2 separate regions of the Homo sapiens genome follow, and region 1 is linked to region 2. Evidence: fine-mapped expression QTL. Tissue or cell type: prefrontal cortex. Region 2 holds a variant in brackets; the other region holds the start of a gene. All regions are shown on one strand. Distances are from middle to middle. Region 1 holds the start of LINC02347 (long intergenic non-protein coding RNA 2347). Region 2 has its middle 29 kb from the start of LINC02825.

Evidence for each region.
Region 1: LINC02347 starts here. The variant in region 2 is fine-mapped to the expression of LINC02347 in prefrontal cortex (BrainSeq, PIP 0.95).

What each region holds. Positions count from the first base shown.
Region 1 is chr12:126,437,050-126,447,996 of GRCh38, reverse strand. LINC02347 (long intergenic non-protein coding RNA 2347) reads right to left here and starts at 5,516. Exons shown (of 12, transcript NR_130748.1): 1 at 5,409-5,516; 2 at 4,970-5,031; 3 at 2,944-3,112; 4 at 1-18. LINC02825 (long intergenic non-protein coding RNA 2825) reads left to right here. Exons shown (of 4, transcript NR_147498.1): 2 at 2,427-2,577.
Region 2 is chr12:126,472,882-126,483,828 of GRCh38, reverse strand. No RefSeq gene overlaps it. Among named protein-coding and RNA genes, the nearest start is that of LINC02825, 29 kb to the right of the region's middle. RefSeq lists a silencer at 3,072-3,366. The variant G/TTTTTTTG (reference allele first, on the strand shown) is at 4,841.

The DNA.
Region 1 (10,947 bases), 36 kb after region 2:
TATTATTGTTACCAGCACCTGAAGGTGATATGGCTCTGATTAGTGGAGGAACACCAGATTCTTCTTCTCAAGTCAAATTAGAAAAAAACTACAGGGACACACGTGGAGTAGTTTTAAGGAGCGGAGAGTTTAATAGGCAAGAAGGAAGGGAGAAGACAAAAGCAAGAAGCTCCCTCGTACAGAGACAGAGAGGAGGAGTCTCCAAACCCAAAAGAGGAAACCCCAAGTTGGGTGGATACCTGCCAGGTATATGTAGAGGCTGGAGGAGGCGGTGTCTGATTTGCATAGGGCTTAGGGGATAGGTTTGACCAGGCATGTCATTTACGTAGCCCTGGAAAAAACTGACCCTCCCACCCTAGCCTTTGAATATGCAAATACAGGCCGCCATGATGTTCCACACACGTGGGGATATGTGGGGGTGGCCATGTTGCCAGGAACATGTGGGGCAAGGGCAAGAAGGCAGCCAGAATCCCCATGTGTGGGTGGACCTAGTTTCTAATGGCTCTCATTTGCTTATCAAAGGCTGCCCACCTGGCTCTAACAGCTGGGGCTTTCCAGCTAGACAGGAAATGTCTTTAAAAATGAAAATTTCCCAAGTACCCCTTTTTATCTCTATCCGCCTAAAATAATTTCTTAATAACTCTTACCACACAAGCATCCTCCTTCTTTAAATATTTCCTTGTTTATTTTACTAGGGAAAAAGAGCTGGTGTTGTCACCATTGTTCAATTTAAAGACCTAATTGGAATTACTCAATTTTACACAATTTCTCAGAATGGGTATCAAATTCCCTGGGTCCATAATCCACATAAAAAGAGAGATTAGGGTGTTCGGCACCTTTCTTAATATGCAAAACTAAAATTCTGGATGCTACTAATAAGATAGTCCTTTCTTTTTCAGACTGTCGGAAACATTATAGCCAAACAAAGATTCTGGTTTATTTTTCTCAAGGAAAGTGGAACTGATGTTGGAATTGTGAGGAGATTTAGACATCATCAGAAACGATTCATGTCATGATGTTGGAAGTCTCCTTTCTTCTTTAGTTCTGACAATGCGATGTAAAAGAGTATATATTTTATTTAAATTTCTATCTTTATCCATATACAATTGATAAATAAAATTGTAGACATTTAAGGTGTACAACATGATGTTTGGAAATACATATGCATTGTGGAATAATTACCACAATCGAGCTATTTAACATATCTCATCTCACATAATTACCATTGTGTGTGTGTGTGTTTAGTGAGAGCATTTAATATTTCAATCCTTAGCAAATTTCTAGTATATAATACAGGATTATTACCTATAGTCACAATGCAGTACATAGATCTCCACAACTTATTTATCCTGCATAAGTGAGATTTTGTACCCTTTGACCAATATCTCCCTATTTTCCTTTCCCTGCGGGCCCTGGCAACCATCCTTATACTCTCTGCTTCTATGAAGGTAATTAGTTTTAATTCACCTCCTGGGGTAGCAGTTTCAGTAATCAAACACTCACATTCCTGCATTGATTAGCAAATGCCCAATTAGAAAGTCCACAGTCCAGAAGTTCTCACTAAAGCCTGTCAGCTGCCATTTTCTATGTCTGCTCAACACTGGAGGTCTCACTAGCTAGTGTAATTCATCTAGAAATGCTATTTCCTTGGAAAGTGTAGTGGTGTGTTCTCTAGCAACATGGATGTAGAAAATGGGCTTTCATTGACGAGAAAGGCAGATGGAATAAACTGAATCAGTCACTCCTCACACCTGCAAAACAAGGTCTCACCATCTCATAAGCCCCATACTCTATACTTGTAGGGAGAGCACATGAAGTCAAACCCCTAAACCACCCTCCATCCAGTCACTGAGATGGCAAATTCAGGTTGCCAGATGCCAACTGTGATGGATTTCTTCTTTTAGAACATTGTCATAACTGTCCCATGGGGATCTTTTATGGCATGTGTTATGTGTTGAAGGACTCATGTGTTGAAGTCTTTGTTTTCTTTTTGTTGTTGTTGTTGTTGTTTGTTGTTGTTTGAGATGGAGTTTTGCTCTGTTCCCCAGGCTGGAGTGCAGTGAGGTGGTCTCTGCTCACTGCAACCTCTACCTCCCAGATTCAAGCAAGTCTCCGGCCTTAGCCTCCCAAGTAGCTGGGATTGCAGGCATGTGTCACCACACCTAACTAATTTTTGTATTCTTAGTAGAAACAGGGTTTCACCATGCTGGCCAGGCTAGTCTCGAACTCCTGACCTCAGGTGATCCACCCACCTTGGCCTCCCAAAATGCTGGGATTGGAGGCATGAGCCACCACGCCAGGCCTCATGTGTTGAAGTCTGAACCTCCAATGTGACTGTACTTGGATATAGGGTCCTTTAAAGAACTAATGAAGATTAACGGAGGTCCTAACAATGGAGCCTAATCCAGTTTGATTTGTGTTCCTAGAAGAGGAAGAGACATGAGAGATACGCACAGTGAAGAGACCAAGCTGGGACACAGTACGAAGGTGGCATCTGCACGCCAAGCAGAGGGACCTCAGAAGAAACTGAGCCAGCCAGCACCCCACCTTCGTCTTTGACCTCCAGCCTCCAGAACTATGAGATATACCTTTCTGTTGTTTAATCCATCCAGGCTGTGTCATTTTGTTATTGCAGCCTGAGAGACCATTACAGAATGTGTAGTTGGATCACTTACAAGGATAGAGGATCTGGGTATCGTACAGTTTACAGAATGTATGGACCGCTGTGTTCCTATTGATAATATGTATTAATTATCAAATACTCATGTGTATGGCAGAATTTGTCCTGAGGCTTTGTTTCCTCTTAATCTGATTGTGAAGTTGGAGAAAAGGCTAATCCCTTGCCCAGCTCAAACTCTGACAAATATGTAATATTATTTCAAAAATGGTTTCCCATGACCCAAAGGGCTGAGGCTACTTCATGGCATTTGCTCTTTGACTCACCTGGACAATCTCTAGAAATGCACCTGAACTCGCCTGATGAAGTGCCCAATATTTCCCATTGTTCTAGGGAGCTGGGTTTTTTTAGCATGGAAATGAGATGATAATGAAGCCTGAGGTCTTCCTGAAGTCATTTGGTTGGCTATCTTGGCTCTAATCAGTTTCAGCTGGTCTGGTTAAAAAGGGAACTTTTTATTGCAGGCATCCTTAAAGAGTAGCAGAGTTAGGATAGGGTAGAAATTCAGCTATGTCACATAGGCATTATACTAGGTAACACTAACACCAGGGAAGAAACAGTACCCTTCTCACGAGTGGGGCACTGTCACCAAGGAGATGGTGGGGTGGAGCTCTGCCTACCAACCAAACCGTACATCAAGACTTTATTCTCTTCTTATGCTCTAGAATTTCACAGTAGTATTGGAGATAGGACATTTCCTTAAAGAAAGATGGAAAGCTAAAACAGGTTGCTATTGATCCGCTGGATACAAACAGCTTGCATGTCTGCAAATTATTCTGGTTGACTTGTGCCCAGTCCTGTTCATACAAGGACTTCAAAGACTCACCGGTTCATTCTGGAAACACAGATATTTAAAAACCTCCCATGTTAGCCAGGCACAGCGGCTCTGTAATCCCAGCACTTTCGGAGGCCAAGGCAGGTGGATCACTGGAGGTCAGGGGTTTGAGACCAGCCTAGCCAACATGGTGAAACCCCATTTTTATAAAAAATAAAAATTAACCAGGCGTGATGGTGGGCGCCTATAATCTCACCTACTCGGGAGTCTGAGGCATGAGAATCGCTGAAACCTAGGAGGTAGCGGTTGCAGTGAGCCCAGATCATGCCATTGTGCTCCAGCCTGGGTGACAGAGCGAGACTCTGTCTCAAAACAGAAACAAAAACCACAACGAAAAAACCTCCCATGTTCTTAGGCTCTGGCTCTGTCTGGGACATCTGCTGTCCATAGAGTAACCAAGGGCTATTTCCCAGCCACTAATTCCAGAGGTTTCCAGAGGGTTTTGTTCCCTCCTTCTTTGAACACTGCAGTCCATCAGGGTTTCAAGTAGTCCTGGTTTCCCAAAGTCTTGGTTGAAACCTGAAACACAGGACATTTGACCAAAAAAACAAAACAAAACAAACAAAAAGAAAAAAAGCCCCTATCCTAATGCCACAGAGACCCCAAAACAATTCACCAAGTGCATCAGGCCTCAGAGAATCAAATCAACTCTTTCAGTCTCTGCCAATGGCCATTCTCTCCATAAGTCTCGGGCAAAATTCCCGGTGGGAGGCAAATGAAGCCGTGTCTACACATCTGCTGTCCTCCCTCCCACACACCCTCTCCACTTCCTTCCTCGGTAGGTCACAATCAAAACACCTATGCAAATTTAGTGATTCTTTATAATTTCTTATCCATTGAGCCTCTCATGCTGTGCTTTATCAGTTTTCCATGACCACGAGACGCTCGCAGAACAAGCTAGTGCTTGGGACAACTGAAGATGAAAAATAGATCATTGGAGGTTGTGATCTAGCAAGGAAGATTAGGTTTATACCTAGAAAAGTTAGAAAAGCAGGCGCCTAGAGAGCCAGGTGTCACCATTTTAAAATTAACTCCATCTTTAAACTCGCAACACACATTCCTTGCCAGTTATGACCCGTGGTCATAAGATGTTTACTGCAGAGGAAACCGCTTGGCAATGCCTGCAAGGACAAACTCCTACAACAGCAGAAAGTCCACATGTCCCAATATCACATAACAATATATGCTTTTAAGAAATGTACAATCATGCTTTCATGTACTTATAAACTAAAATGCCAAGGATAACTTTCTTTAAATGGCCAAAGTACTACATCTTGTCACATTGTCAGCCCACCCACACACAGAGATAGCTTAGCTTTTATGTAGATGAGACCCCTGTGTAAGAAGAGTTTAAAACAAAGACAGGGCATTCCTCCTCTTGCTTTCTGAGGACACCCTACTCTGAATCTGAAGAATTTTCAATAAATGATCTCTTCTCACTACACTCTACAACTCACCTTGAATCCCTTTCTGTGGGAGGTCCAGGAACCCTCTCTTGAGGTCTGGATCATAGGGACCCCTTTTTCCAGCAACACAAACATTGACAATATAAAAATAAAGAACATGTTTATCTATGATATCAATGTCTGTATCTGTAAGTATACCTAGCTCAAAATCTGTCTCTTTATTTAGTTTTCTAACTATATGTCTATCTGTATCATAGACATATTAGAAATCATAATTTCTAACATATTGTTGTAGGAGGTCATAACAGAACCTATTATAAAGTGACAGTCTCTTGCTCCTATTTTCTATTATTTCCCATTCAGTCCAGGTAAGTCTTTTTGGGGGACCCTCCCCCACACCCGCTGGAACAGTTACTCTGGCACAGCCGCTCCAGCCTGGATCTCATTTTTGCTTCTCCTGGACTTCTCACTGTGCAGATGTTAGACTCACACTCTCCTCTGGCCTCCTGCTCCTGCTCTGAAAGTGAGCAGTTGTCCCTCTGGGTGGCATTTGAAGTCAAAGCTGGGTCTCTTGACAGTGCCCACCCCTGGTATTCCCACTGCAGGAGGGAGGCCTCTTCTGTTAACAGTGACAGTTATTACAGAACAATGCCTGGAGAGATGATAACTTAGAGCAATTTCATTGTCTTTCCCCTTGACGACTCAGCTCCCACGCTAGAGCAGGTGAGGCAGTGCTTAGGAATAACAAAACAAAATCGCAAAGCCAGGACTTCCTTGAGTTTACTTTGCTTTCTCACTAGATTTTAATTATTATTATTATTATTATTATTATTATTTTGAGATGGAGTTTCACTCTCGTCACCCAGGCTGGAGTGCAATGACGGGATCTCAGCTCACTGCAACCTCTGCCTCCCGGGACCAAGCTATTCTGCCTCAGCCTCCTGAGTAGCTGGGATTACAGGCACCCGCCACCAAGCCTGGCTCATTTTTGTATTTTTAGTAGAGACAGGGTTTCACCATGTTGGCCAGGCTGGTCTCGAACTCCTGACCTCAGGTGATCCGCGTGCCTCAGCCTCCCAAAGTGCTGGGATTACAGGTGTGACCCACGGTGCCCGGCCTCTGACTAGCTTTTTGGAAAATTTCATAGAATGATCCAGGGTTCCAGATTCAATTTACTTTAAGGTGAAATAAGTGGGCTGGTTAGCAAGTGGTCAGCTTTTCTTTGGTGTGAGGATAAAAAGAGGGTGGCTACTTTCTATGGCTTTCCAAACAGTCTCTGTTTCACTTAGTCCAAAAACACGTAATGTTCATATAACAAAGAAATGATACATATTTGAGGTGATGATATACTAAGTTGCCTAATTGGATCATTCCGCCATGTATACAGGTATCAAAACATCACATTTTGTTCTATAAATATATACAGTTACTATTTGTGAATTTAAAATCAAACTATAAAAAATACATTCTACTAATGTTCTAAGATGACTTCTGAGACATTTAGCGTGTATTGATTACTTATACTATGTCTCTCACTGCTTCTACTCATTGAAGAGGTTTATATTGTAAGTAAACATAATTCTTATCATATTCATTTTACAGATAAGGAAACTAAAGTGCAGAATAAATATTTGTCCAAATCTGCACGAGAAAGAGGTTCAACACAGGGCTAGCACCCAGGGATGTCTAGTTTTCAGGACCCACCCTCTCGCGTAGTACACTGCCCCTCCCTCCATTCACTGCAGTTAGGATTCAGGAGCAATAACTGGACACAGTCAAGCCAGTTTGCATCTTTACAGAAAATTCCACCCATTTCGATTAGTGAAGATTCACACGTTTAGCTATGATTTGGCTCCCAGAATTCCTCCAAGTCAGAATATAAACAGAGCTAGACATAGTTCAGACAGTTGTGTCATACCAAAAAAATTTTTAAAAGGATACAGAATCAATCAATCAAGTAGAAAATGAGACATTTTTCATTAAGCTAAAAATAATTAAGTCAATTATTTGGCACTAATGCAACTCTTAAGCCCCGCGGGTGGGAACTTTTGGTTCATAAAAAGTGTTTAGTTCAGATCTGAGCTGAAACAACTTTCAATCTCATTTTCAAGTAGAAAGATGGCAAGGGCCGAGGCGGGCGGATCACAAGGTCGGGAGATCTAGACCATCCTGGCTAACACGGTGAAACCCCGTCTCTACTAAAAATATAAAAAATTAGCCAGGCGTGGTGGCGTGCACCTGTAGTCCCAGCTACTCGGGAGGCTGAGGCAGGAGAATGGCGTGAACCCGGGAGGCGGAGCTTTCAGTGAGCCGACATTGCGCCACTGCACTCCAGCCTGGGTGACAGAGCAAGACTCCGTCTCAAAAAAAAAAAAAAAGAAAGAAAGAAAAAAAAAGAAAAGATGGCAAGGGCTCCTTTACACACCAATAAAATCAGAACAAATACGTATAAGCAACTAGGACAATCCTGGAATATTGTGGGCACCAAGTAAATATCGTGGATGCATCTTATGCAGCCAGACAGGATGATCCAATAATCAGACATCCGAAGGCTCCTGGAGTTTGATCCTCTGAATTCACTCTGCAATATGAAGTCCTGTTATTCTTGGCAACCGATCGTGCTTTTGAAAAAGTGTGTCCCAACTGAGATAACATTGAAATTTTCTGTTTAAAGACACCTCAAATGACTGTGCTCAGGAGTCAGTGTTCCCATCAATGGGTCTGAAGATATTCCTAAGCTCCAAGCCATAATAAATGGCATCTGAAATTATTTCAAGATTAATCATCCTGGGTAGACCTTGAGGGTTAGTCTGAAATTGTACATAACAACCCGGAAAAGCTGTGCATTGCCCAGCTAAAGTGTGGTCCCTGAAAGCCATCACCTGGGCCAGGTAGGCTGCTAGGCCACCCAGAGTAGAAAAATACAGAGCAGCCTACGGGCATATTTTCTTACCCAAGGCCAGTTTAGACAGAAGAGTCACTTGAATAATTGTCCACTTCGTTCGTTCTTCAATCCCAGAGGATACTTACTTTTGGAATATTCACTTTACTCCCCACATAGCCATATTTTTCTCACTTAACTCCATCTCTTCTTCTCTTTAAGGCCTGGTAGAAAATGGCCAAATTTTATAAAATGAGGCAGAAGTGCCTCTAACATTGCCCATATGTGGGAAGATGAAACCTAGGAAAGACAGCTTAGAAGGAGGGAGTCATGGTACCCACTGGGGTTCCTCAATGAGAACATTGTAGAAGGTGTAAATTGGCGGACTCAAGGCTGAATGCAGCCTATAGGTATATTTTCTTGGCCTACATGTCATTGCTTTTAAAATCACATTGGTTTTCAATAGCCAAAGTTCAGGGGGTTTTATATGCAGGGTCCTGGGTTTCAGGCTACTCTTTAAAAGTTTAGAAGATGTGGCAATGCTGGGCCTGTGTTTCTGCATAGCAGCAAAGGCCAGGAGCAGAGTAGCAGCTGCTTGCCTCAGAGGTGGCATTAGATCTTCAGGACACCGCAGTCCCCACCACTCCCAATTGCCTTAGCCTGGTTTCTGACACTCATTTATATCACTTGTTAGGCTGCTATGGGCATTGGAGTTTGTGTCTCCTAATTTAATACCTTTGGAAAACATTACTAAAAAACACATTTCCACAAATAGACTTGGCAGTATGGCAGAAATGCAAAAGTTAATCAGACCTACATCCTGCCCCCATATAAAAATAAAGTGCAGAAGAGCATATATAGTATGTTTCTATTTGGGCAAAAAGAAATCCCACATCTTCCCTCTCTCTATGCAATGCAAGTGCACAGTGCATAAATCACAAAGATCTCTTAGCATTGGATGCAGTAGATATATCTACACGATTTGAATTTTTTATCAAATGCTTATATTAATTTTTTAATAAGAGATCTAATTGTTATGATAGTTTCCAGAGATGGCTATCATAAATATTATTCCTCTTTCTACGCACATTACACTCAAACTGTTAAGAAAGGGAGTCAATTTCTCCTCCCTTTGTATCTGGGCTAGCAGTATAACTTACCTTGAACAAGAGAAGGTGGTAACGGGTCACTGTGATGATTCCAGTCACCGTCTATAAGAGGTCCAACAGCTTTTGCTTTCTCTCTGGGGAAAACCAGGCACTGTGTAAGAACTCCAGCCACTATGCGGCTGCCATGCCGTGAGGAAGCTCACACAAGCCATGTGGATAGGGATGACCCAAGTAACCAGGCCGCCAGTGACCACAGAGGCCTGAGGTGTGTGATCCCAGTTGAGTCACCACTATTTGTGACATCCCAGCCAAGGATCCAAACATCGTGGAGCAGAGAAAGCCCCTCTCATCCTAGCTTGTCTGCATTGCTGATACAAAAGTGGTGAGCAAATAAATGATTGCTTTAAGCTCCTAATTTGGAGTAGTTTATGATGGGGTGATAGATCCTTGAAACAATAATGAAGCAAACAGTTGGCATTCTAGAACACAAACAGTAGAAAACGGGTGTGCACAAGACAAGCTGGACACATAGAATCATATCATCTTTCTGACTGAGAAATATTGCAGGTGCAATAACATGCATCTGTCATCAAAGGGCATCTCAGGTAGGTCCAAGTTGAGCTTAGCAGCCTGTATTCAGTTGGGAGCCATTGAGTTATAGCAGGAGTGTCTCCCATACTTCATTGTGAAGTCTCTAAGACAAAACAAACCCCTCTGAGCTTTAGTTTCCACACAAATGGGTAATATTGCTATCTCACCCTTTCCAAAGGCTTGTTGAGAAAATGAAATAACATAACTGTGGCTGCAAGTGTTTTGTAACTTGGGAAGGGCATACAGATCTGGTGAGTTACTAGAGCGGAGTTAAAGAGAAACAACATTCAGGTACTGACTTCAAGCAAAGCCAGTTCATGAAAGGCAAAGTAGGAGATAAGACTGTGGACACAGTGGCCTGGTTAAGACCTTGGTTCTGTGACTTATGCACTGCTTGCCTTGCAGCAGGGTGCTTGGAAACTCTGTGCCTTATTTTGCTCATGGTGAGTGAGAATTGTAACACCCACATTACAGAGGCATTTTGTAGTATTAATGAGTTAACATGCAAATATGCTTAAAACAGTGCTTGGCACACATTGAGAGCTTAATAAATATGAGCCATTAATTTTATTATTATTGCTACTATAATTAGGACCTAGAACATCTTCATAGTTCTAATGTAGTTCTGTTTCTACAGCATACAGTTAATTCTTAACATTTCAGATGTGATACTGCATTTCATCCTACCATTATCTTTATGAGAAAGTTTCACTGAAATTCTCACTAGTCAGCCACTTATTTCTGCTTGAACTTTTTCTGAGATAGAAATGTCTATCTCAGAGAAGCCTCTAATTTTTTAGTTTATTTGCTTGAGATAAATACATAGGAGAGAAAGTATTGAGGCAATTGGTATGTTCACTTCCAAAGCAATTGTCAAATCACCCTCCATAAAGCCTACAGTAATTTTTTGACCTCCTAGTAATCCTGTTAGGTGCATACTTCAACATTTTCTGCCAGCAATGAAAACGCAAACTTTTAAAATATTTTTCAGTTTGATCAGTGAAAATAAGTAATTCGTAATTTTATGTTGATTCTTTTTGTTACTAATGCTGTTGAATTATTTCTCAAACGTTTAATTTTCACATTTTCTTTTATTCCTGCTGACTTGCTTTTTCAGGGTTTTCACACATGATCTGTCTATTGCGTTGTTTTATTATAACTAGATGTTTTTGCTGTTATTCTGTTTTACGATTGTGTGTGTGTTTGTGTGTTTGTGTGTGGCTGTTGTGTAAGGCAGTGTTTCAACTTTGTTTTTCATTATTGACCTCTCTCAGCCTGAGGAGACTTTTAAGACTATTTCCTAATCATTTCCCTCCCTCCATGAAATGTTTATGCTGCAGATGTATTGCATATCTGTTTGTATACTGCATCTAGGCTTGCATTATTTTGTGCTCCCTAACAACCCCACCAGCAAATTTTGCTCCTGTAAGGATGCTACCTCTGCTATT
Region 2 (10,947 bases):
CCATTAACATATCGTGTGCGGATTTAATTTTTCTTATAAATTAGCACGCCAGCATTTCATTCTCCTTTGTTCTCGCTGTACTCAGCAAATGCTAGTACTAGGTACATCTTTGCCTGAGTTTCTGCAGCTGCCTTTTCTGGCAGAGCTTGTTTTGTTGCAAGACACATGTTATACAATTCAATTGTCCAGATAAAAACCAGGCTTAGCTTGGTTTAAAAGGCAAACATATTAGCAGCTTGGTGGAAAAATAGAGGCATTTGACTGGAAGAAATGAAATCAGCTTTTGAAAGAATGAAAATATGCATGAACAGTAAAAAAGGTGAGAACCACCATCACTAGGGAAAGAACAAGGGTATTAATATCGCCTTAATTTATAGAATTTCTTGGATAATGCTGGGGTTGATTTTCATCTGATTATTGCAGATACAAATAGGAAAAAGAAAAACAGGCTTATAAGTGACTCATACCTATCATGAGTGACTAATTCCAGTTCTGTTCTGTTCTGACTAACAAAGCAAATAGTTTGTGTGTAGGTTGTTTTTGGAAGGAAAATGATTTGAAACAAGGGTCTAAGCTGTTTCAGCAAAGTATATTAAGCCATCGGTAGTTTAGAATATTATTTCTATATTCCTATGAAAATAACGATAAGGCTTGTTAGAGAAGAAATATAAGCAAACCGATATATCCCTATTATCTGAGCATATGCTTTGGTTTTTCTCAATATTATCAATAAATAGCTTTTTGATAATTGGCCAGGTAGTAAGTAATCATTACGGTCAAGCTATTGACACTATTGAAGCCTGTCTTTCATTTTTGAATCAGTCCATGCCCATCCCATCTTAGGACCTTTGAACTTGCTGCTGCTTCTGCCTGAACCCTCTGCATATGGCTGGGTTCTTTTTTTATCCTTTTCCTTTAGAAGAAGGATCCCTTATGTCACCTCCTAGGAAAAGCCTTCTCTGTTCACCCTAATAAGATAGCCCAACCACCCCCATTCTAGTCTGTCTCCATCAGATTGGCTTCTTTTTACCCTTCCATCCCAGCATTATCACAGTCTAACAATAGTCTGTTTCCTTGTTTTATTGACTGAATCCCTGCATTAGGCTGTAAGCTGCATGAGACCAGGATCCTAAGCTGTCACTTTCAACACTGTTTCCCCAGGCACTAGGAAGGGGCGCAGTCACAGTAGGCATCATGAGGAACGAAGGAAGGAAGGAAGGAAGGAAGGAAGGAAGGAAGGAAGGAAGGAAGGAAGGAAGGAAGGAAGGAAGGGAGGGAGGGAGGGAGGGAGGGAGGGAGGGGGGAAGGAGGGAGGGAGGGAGAGGGGAAGGAGGGAGGGAGGAAGTGGGGGAGGAGGGAGGAAGTGGGGAAGGAGGGAGGGAGGAGAGAGGGAGGGAGGAAGGAAGGACCCACAGATAGAGCTCAAGGGCAATTCATCTCTTACTGAATTCCTCTCTGGAAAACCCAGCATCATAAGGCAGTTGTGGCTTAATTATCTTTAAAAAAACAATTTGGGGAGGGAAATAATAGGAGAAAAAGGCTAGGGAAACTTTTATTTGTTGATTTCCAAATAAGGCACTTAAAACATAGCAGAAGTTTTCAAAGTAAGCCAGAGAAAGTTTAATATCTTGTTGACAAAAGGACCGAGTTCTGTGAAATGTGAAGACATGCAGTCTGCTTTTACCTTCAAAGTGCTGTCGGTCACTCGTGCCCTCTGCTTTGACAGTAAGAATGCAAAGACACAAAATACTGCCTTGTACCTCATCAAGATTCTCTCTCACCACAGCAAGAGAAATGCAGACCCTGAATCTTGGTAATGTGTCACTATAATTTAAATATAGATCATGATGAAGACACCATACATTATGTCTAGTTTAAGTAGCTCAAGTGGAAGGAGGAGTGTGAGCGTGGGAGGGTGTGCTTGTTGAGGAGTGAGTAAATATAAGGAGAATATGGTACAAAGCATCACCTTTATAAAAAGAATAGCCCACAGCCCTACGCTTTCTATGTGGCTGTGCCTTGTCTTCCCAGCCAAGGCTGCAAACTTTTCGAACGGTAGCATGTATCTTTTTATTTTTTCTCGGAAACCAACACACTAACCTAGACTTGGGTGCACAGTGGATGCCGTATAGTCTATGCTACGTTCACCTGCCCGTGTCACCATGGATGCCTCAGGCACTTGAGCTGCAACTAAAGGTCACTCCACCACAGTGCTGGTGTAAATAGAGTCCACGTGTATATTCTGTGCTTCTGCCAACCTACCCGTCACATAGTATTAATTCTTTAACTTCATGTCCAGGCCCAGTGAAACTTTGCTTGCTTTGCCTTTCTTCGCAAGGGTGCTGTGGGGTTAATTCATTCCTGGGCACTGGGTTGAGGGCACTGGGAGCTGGACAATTTCTTACATATCCGCAGGGGCTCTTTGCATTTTTTGTCTGGTGGCAAAGCGGTACCAGAAAATATGCCTTTCCATATATAATTCCATGCTTTCCTCTAATAATAATAATACTCCATTTATAATAACCATGGGCCAGGCACGGTGGCTCACGCCCGTAATCCCAGCACTTTGGGAGGCCGAGGCAGGCGGATCAGGAGGTCAGGAGATCCAGACCATCCTGGCTAACAGGGCGAAACCCCGTCTCTACTAAAAATATAAAAAAATTAGCCTGGAGTGGTGGCGGGCGCCTGTAGTCCCAGCTACTGGGGAGGCTGATGCAGGAGAATGGTGTGAACCCGGGAGGCGGAGCTTGCAGTGAGCCCAGATCGCGCCACTGCACTCCAGCCTGGGAGACAGAGCGAGACTCCGTCTCAAAAAAAAAAAAAAAAAAAACCCATGATTTCTATATAGGAAAGCTGCCATATAGTCATTTTAATAACTGATTAAAAGGTAAGAATGACAGCCTAGAAACTACAGACCCAAGATCCAAGCCTGGAATCATGCCGTACATCTCGAAACGGGCAAATGCAATTAAAAATCCCGCAGCAGGCAGTTCAGCCATGGAGGAAGGAACATATTTTGGTCTTGAAATTTGCTTTCAGCTTCCCCAGCACTTATAATCCGATTTTCGCCAGCGGAGATGAATAATGACCCTCCTCAGCCTATTTACGGCGGATGGAGAAGAATGATGATCACACATATTGATTTTCCTCCCCCTCTTTCTTGTTGCAAGAGACTTGAGGAAAGATGATCTCGTTTATCTTGAGCCCTGCTGTGCTGGGGATGAGGTGAATAAGCATTTCCAAGGAAAAAGAGGAGGGGCCCCTAAGGTCCCAAATCAAAGAATGCGTTTGTGGGAGGGTTTCCAGCTCTGGGTCGCTGAGGAAGCTTAAGAATTTTCAACAAACAAAATGATGTTTAAAAGAAACGTCTCATACATGTTCTGAAAACTGGATGAAACGCATAGAAAATATGTTTTGTGTGGCCTGGAGCTTGTTTAATCTACTATTAGACAAGAAAAGATCCTCTATGTGTTTTCTCCACGGCTTGTTTTTAGTCAACTTTAGTGAGTGTAATTATACAATGAAAGGCACCCACGTTACGTGCGCAGGTGGGAGAGTTCTGACCAGAGCCTGGGATTGTCTGTTGCCACCTCCTCTGTGCAGGCTTTTGTCTCTCCAGGGTGCCCCTCCTGGGTCACAGAGCCCCCCACTCCTCTGGAACCCTTTTCTCCTCCCCTTCTCCTCTTCTCCATCTCACTGTGGATTGCAAACTGCCACACTTCTGAGCCCCTCTTCTGAAGGTCGTCATGCAGAGAAGGGGGTTGGGGGGTCGGCTGCCATTTTCCCAATTTCTCAGCCCAGGGCCTCACCTGAGTTGATACCTGGCAAATATCTGTGGGATCAATGTGTGGCCAAAAGACTGTGGCTTCCAGGGAGGGGCAGGGAGGGCAATTTAAGAGGAAGGGGGTCGGTTGAGGTGGCTCATATCTGTAATCCCGGCACTTTTGGGGGCCAAGATAGGAGGATTGCTTGTGACCAGGAGTTCGAGACCAGACTGGGCAACATAGCAAGACCCCATCTCTACCAAAATATATATTTATAGTGGGATGTGGTGACATGGGCCTGTGGTCCTAGCTACTCAGAAGACTGAGGCAGGAGGATCGCTTGAGCCCAGCAGATTGGGGCTGCAGTGAGCTATGATTGCGCCACTGCACTCCAGCCTGGGTAACAGAGGGAGACCCTGTCTCAAAAATAAATAAGTAAATAAATAAGAGGAAAGGGTCCTAGGTAAGATCCTTGCTGGGAGAATTGCAATTCCCACTTCAAGTGTCAGAGCTCCAGGGTGTAGATGCCAAGGTTTGATGTTTCTCACTATCTTGTACAGAGATCTCACTTACAGTGAGTAAGGAACCAGCACGTGCGGGAGGAGGGAGAGCCTAAGGGGCTGGAGTGGAGTCTGTCCTGTGTGCGGAGATGCTAGGCCACTGGAACAGATTTCTGCTGGACTGAGGGATCATGGCTTGAGCCCCACCACACTTCAGAACCCGGGGAAGGGGCAGGACAGAGCCACAACCCCTTTCTGTTCCTTAACACACACATCTTGTCCTTCTCCCTCCTTCATCCTACCCCACCACATCCCCAGCAAGCTGAGCCCTGCCTGGCTGCCAGGTCTTTGGGCAGAGCTTAGAAGCCCCTGTGTGACTGGGAGGCCAGAAACCCTTCCCTGGCCAGGAAAGAAGCTGGGGAGGCCTGAAGGTCCGACTACTCTGCCACTGCGGAAAGGGAGGTCACCCTGAGTCCCCAAGTCCAGGGCAATTCTCTGCTAATATGTGCATTTATTGCTATAATTTTCCTTTCAAATATGGCTTAATATGGCTTTAGCTGCCTTTTTTTTTTTTTT[G/TTTTTTTG]AGATGGAGTGTCTCGCTGTCACCCAAGCTGGAGTGCAGTGGCACAATCTTGGCTCACTGCAACCTCAGCCTCCTCAGTTCAAGTGATTCTCCGGCCTCAGCCTCCCTAGTAGCTGGGATTACAGGTGTGCGCCACTATTCCCAGCTAAGTTTTGTATTTTTAGTAGGGACAGTGTTTCACCATGTTGACCAGGCTGGTCTCAAACTCCTGACCTCAAGTGATCTGCCCGCCTAAGCCTCCCAAAGTGCTGGGATTACAAGTGTAAGCCACCGTGCCTGGCCTAGCTGTCTTTGATATATAGTATTTTCATAATTACTCAGATGAAAGTATTTCATAATTTACAGCATGGCTCTGTGACATGCTCTATTTAGAAGACGATTTCTTTAAATCTGTCCATTTAGGGGTGATGCAGTTGCCATCATCATCATCCTAGTTTTATTCCACAGCGAGAAGAGAAGATACGCTACGATTTCAATTATTTGAATGGCTTACAATTGGCTGGGTGGTAAAGCTTGTGGACAATTTGGGGACATATTCCATGTTCTGTGATTGTTGGCTTCTGCGTTCTAATACGCCATTTGGATCAAGCCTGTATTTCTGCAGTGCAAAACTCCTATATTCCTAAACATTTTATGCCAGAGCTCTATCAGTTAAGAGAGGTTTGAGAAAATCTCCCACTGTGATTGTCTATTTCTTATATTTCTTCCTTTGGTTCTGTCAAATTTTTGCTTTCCACTTGTATGTGCTGTTTAGACTTGCTTTCTCGTCACATCATCGTATACTTTGAAGCACTTTTTGCCATAAAATCTGTTAAAAGAACGCCAGCCTACTTTTGTTTCTTGTCTGAATAATGCTTCCCTGGGCTTTTACTTTTATTCTTCCATATTTTAAATATGAAGAAATGTCTTCATATTTAAAATCCCTATAGTGTAAGCATTATGTGGCTGAGTTGTACATTTTATCTTGTTTGACAAAGCTTAAATTTTTATTGGATGTTGGTTAATTTACGTGTGATGATTTTAGTGATATGTTTGTGTTCAGATTTGTTTCCGTTTGCTGCATTCATTTTTCCCTCCTGTTGAATCCTTGCATTAACAGATTATTTTGATTTAGCATCCTCCATTAGCATGTTATTATTCAGTTCCCCTGGAGACTATGATGTGCATCTTTGATTCATAATTCATAATAATTAAAGATAAATTAATGCTTTCATCATAACCTTAAAAATGTTAACAATTTAAGACATTTTAATTCATTCCATTTCTTCTGTCTTTTGATTTGTTGGATTCACGTTTTTAAATTCTACATACATTTTGAAACTCACAAGGTATTATTGTTATTATGATTGATTTATGCAGTTTAGGTTTATCACAGATTTTTTAAAAATTTGTATTCATTATTCCTTTCATTTATATTTATCTGTCTGAAATGATTTTCCTATCCCTAAAACTGACTGACGTGGTTTGGATACTTGTCCCTTTAAGTCTCATGTTGAAATGTAATCCCCAGTGTTGGAGGTGGGCCTAGTGGGTGGGGTTGGGATCATGGGAATGAATCCCTCATGAGTGGCCTAGCACCATCTCCTTGGTGATGAGTGAAGCGGTTGTTTAGAAGTGTGTGGTGCCTCCTCCCTTTTCTCTTTGTCCTGCTCTTGCCATGTGATGTGCTGGCTCCCTGTTGCCTTCTGCCATGATTGGAAGCTCCCTGAGGCCTCACCAGAAGCAGATGTCAGCACCATGCTTCCTGTAAAGTCTGCAGAACCATAAGCCAATTAAACCTCTTTTCTTTATAAATGACCCCAACCTTAGACATTTCTTTATAGCAATGCAGGAACAACCTAACACACTAACAAATTGTATGGTTTTTAGTGTACATTTGGTGGCACTGAATTCTCTCAGTCTTTCTTTTATATAAATTTTCATTTTGCCTTCATTTTAAACTTTTTTGGTATGTTATTTCTAGATAGAGAATTCAAAGATGACAGGCATTTTCTTTCAGTTATCTCTTTTACTTAATTTGTATAAATTTAAGGGTACAAATGCTATTTTTTATTAAGTGGTTGTTTTGCCTAGTGGTGAAGTCTGGGCTTTTAGTGTGTCCATCATCTGAATAATGCACATTGTATCCGTTAAATAATTTCTAATCATCCACACCCCTCTCCCCACTCCCTGACCCTTCCAAGTCTCCAATGTGTATCATTCTACTCTCTATGTAATTTGATTTGGTTGTCTTCAGACTTAATTTTGGTTTTGTGGTGTGTGTGTGTGTGTGTGTGTGTGTGTGTGTTGTTTTTGATAGGGTCTTGCTGTGTCTCTCAGGCTGGAGAGCTGTGGTGCAATCACTGCTTACTACAGCCTCTACCTCCCAGGCTCAAGTGATCCTCACACCTTAGCCTTCTGAGTAGCTGGGACTACAGGCATGTGCTCCACACCCAGCTAATATTTTTTTAATTCTTTTGTAGAGACAGGGTCTTACAATGTTGCCCAGGCTGACCTAGAACTCATGGTCTTAAGAGATCCTCCTGTCTCAGCCTCCCAAAGTGCTGGCATTATAGGTATGAGCCATCCACTGTGCCTGGCCAATTTTGTATGCTGAGAAATTAGCTAAAATTCTTATTATTGCCTCTTTGAATAGAATGTGTGTTTTTCCCTTTGTTTTTGTTTTCATTGGTTTGCACTGGTGTGTCTAAGTGTTTTATTTTCCTTGTATTCCTCTTGCATTGGGTTAGTAGAAATTCTTTAATCTATGCTTACATTTCCATGATCAAGTTTAGATATTTCTTATCCGTGATTTTTTCAAGTATTTTTTCTACCCTATTCTCTCTTCCTCTAAGAGTCTAGATACAAATTTGATAGGCTTTTTAAAAAATAAATAAAACAAAGTAGTTTTAGATCTATAAAATTATAAATTTATATAATAGGGAGAGTTCCCACATACCCCACACTGAGTTTCATTTTGTGTTAACATCTTACATTAATATGAAACATTTGTCACAACTAATGAATCAACATTAATACATTATAATTGATATGGTTTAACTGTGTCCCCATCTAAATTTCATCTTGAATTGTAGGTCTTATAATGCCCACGTGTCATGGGAGGGACTAGGTGGAGATAATTGAATCATGGAGGCTGTTTTCTCCATCCTGTTCTCATGATAGTGAGTGATTTCTCTTGAAATCTGATGATTTTATAAGGGGCTTCACACTGCACTTCTGCTTCCTGCTGCCATGTGAAGAAGGACATGTTTACTTCCCCTTCCACCGTGACTGTAAGTTTCCTGAGGCCTCTGCAGCCATGCTGAACTGTGAGTCAATTTAACCTCTTTCCTGTATAAATTACCCAGTCTTGGGTGTGTCTTTATTAGCAGAATGAGAATGGACTAATACAATCATTAATTAAAATCCATACTTATTTCAGGTTAATTTTGGTTTCTTAGTTTTTCTTTAATGTCCTTTTTCTATTTCGGGATCTCATCCAGAATACCTTATTCCATCTAGTAGCCATATCTTCTTAGGCTTCTTTATGCTATGACAGTTCCTCAAAGTGTCCTTGTTTTTTCATGACTCATACAACATGTAGCCATTTCAGATTGGTCATTTTCAGTAGCAATATACATTTAAGATTCATTCACATTTTCATGTTTCTGAACAGTTCATTCCTTTACACTGGTGTACAATATACCATTGTATGGATGTACCAGGTTTGTTTAATCATTTGTAAAACTATATCTCCATTACTTCCAGTGTCTGTTGAATATGAATAAATCTATTAAAATATTCATATGTGAATTTGGTGTGAACATGCTTTTTTTTTGAGACAGGGTCTTGCTCTGTTGCTCAGGCTGGAGTGCAGTGGCATGATCTCAGCTCACTGCAAACTCAGCCTCTAAAGCACAAGCAATTCTCCCACTTCGGCCTCCCAAGTAGCTAGGACTACAGGCATGCACCACCATGTCCAGTTAATTTTTGTATTTTTTGTAGAGATGGGGTTTTGCCATGCTGACCAGGTTGAGTCTTGAATTCCTGAACTCAGGCGATCCACCTGCCTCAGCCTCCCAAAGTGCTGAGTCATGAGCCATGGAGTCTGGCCAAAAATACATTTTTAAGTCAGTTGGTTAAATACTTAGGAACATGGTAGCTAGATTGTAATGATAAGACTATGTTACACTTTGTTGAGAATCTGCCAAATTTTCCTCAAAATTGCCAGTACCATTTTGTCATCCCACCAGCAATACAATACCATACTAATAGTTGTACAATTGCATTGCGTCATTATTTTCATTTTCATTTCCTTAATGGTGAATGATGCTGAACATCTTTTCATATACTATTTGCCACCAAAACACTGTAAAGTGTCTCTTCAGGACTTTTGCCATTGTTTGATTGGGCAGTTTGGGGATTATATATTTTTTTCTTACTTTGGAGTTGCATTGTTTTTAATAATTTTAACTTTCATTTTAGATTTGGGGTTACATGTATACATTTGTTACATGGGCATATTGTGTGACACTTAGATTTGGTTTATGAATGATCTTGTCACCCAGCTAGTGAGCATAGTGCCCAACAGGTAGTTTTTCACCCCTTTCTCTCGTTCCCCTTTCCACTTCTAGTAGTCCCCAGTTTCTATTGTCACCATCTTTATGTCCATGATTACCTAATATTTAGCTCCCAGTTATAAGTGAGAACATGTAGTATTTGGTTTTCTCTCACTGCACTAATTCACTTAGGATGATGGCTTCAAGTTGCACCCATGTTACGGCAAAGGACATGATTTTTTTCTTTTTTATGGCTGGGTAGTATTCCATGGTGTGTCTATACCACTTTATTTCTTAATCCAATCTACCATTGATGAGCACCTACATTGATTCCATATCCTTGCTATTGTGAACAGTGCTATGATGAACATATATGCATGCTGCTAATGCCACAGAATTTTGTAGAATTATTTATTTTCCCTTGAGTATATACCCAATAATGAGATTGCTGGGTCAAATGGTAGTTCTGTTTTTAATTCTTTAAGAAATCTCCAAATTGCCTTCCACAGTGACTGGACTAATTTACATTCCAACAAACAGTGTACAGCCTCACCAGTGTCTATTTTTTTTTTTGTATTTTTAATAATCACCATTCTGACTGGTATGAGATGGTATCTCATTGTGGTTTTGATTTGCATTTTGCTGATGATTAGCAATATTGAGCAATAGGTTTTGTGACCACTTATATGTCTTCTTTTGAGAAGTATCTGTTCATGTCCTTTGCTCACTTTTTAATGGGGTTATTTGTTTTTTGCTTGTTGACTTAAGTTTCTTATAGATTCTGGATATTAGACTTTCACTGGATTAATAGTTTGTGAATATTTTCTTTCATTCTGTGGGTTGTCTGTTTACTCTATTGATAATTTCTTTTGCTGCGCAGAAACTCTTTAGTTTAATTAGGTCCCACTTATCAATTTTTGTTTCTGTTGCAATTGCTTTTGAGGACTTAGTCATAAATTCTTTGTCAGTGCTGATGTCCAGAATGGTATTTCCTAGGTTTTCTTCTGGGATTTTTAAAGTTTGAGGTCTTACATTTAAGTTTTTAATACATCTTGAGTTATTTTTGTACATGGTGAGAAGTAGGGGTCCAGTGTTACTCTTTGGCATATGAGTAGCCAGTTATCACAGCACTATTTATTAAACAGGGAGTCTTGTCTCCATTGTTTATTTTTGTCATCTTTGTCAAAGATCAGATGGTTGTAGGCGTATGACTTTATTTCTGGGTTCTGTATTTTGTTCTATTGGTCTATGTGTGTTTTTGTACCAGTACCATGCTGTTTTGTTTATTGTAGACTTGTGGTATAGTTTGAAGTTGGGTAATGTAATGCCTCTGACTTTCTTCTCAAGTTTATATTTTTTGTGGCTTCTACTCCACATAAAAAGATCTCACTTGTGCTGTCTTTCTGGATTTGCTTGTCCCTTTAGATTTGGGGATGTCAGTTTGGTCTGTGATCTCAATTATCTGATGAGTCCAAGAGAAGTTATGGACTTTCTGTATATTCCATTTATTTATTTATTTATTTATTTATTTATTTATTTATTTATTTATTTGTAAGGCTATGAATAATG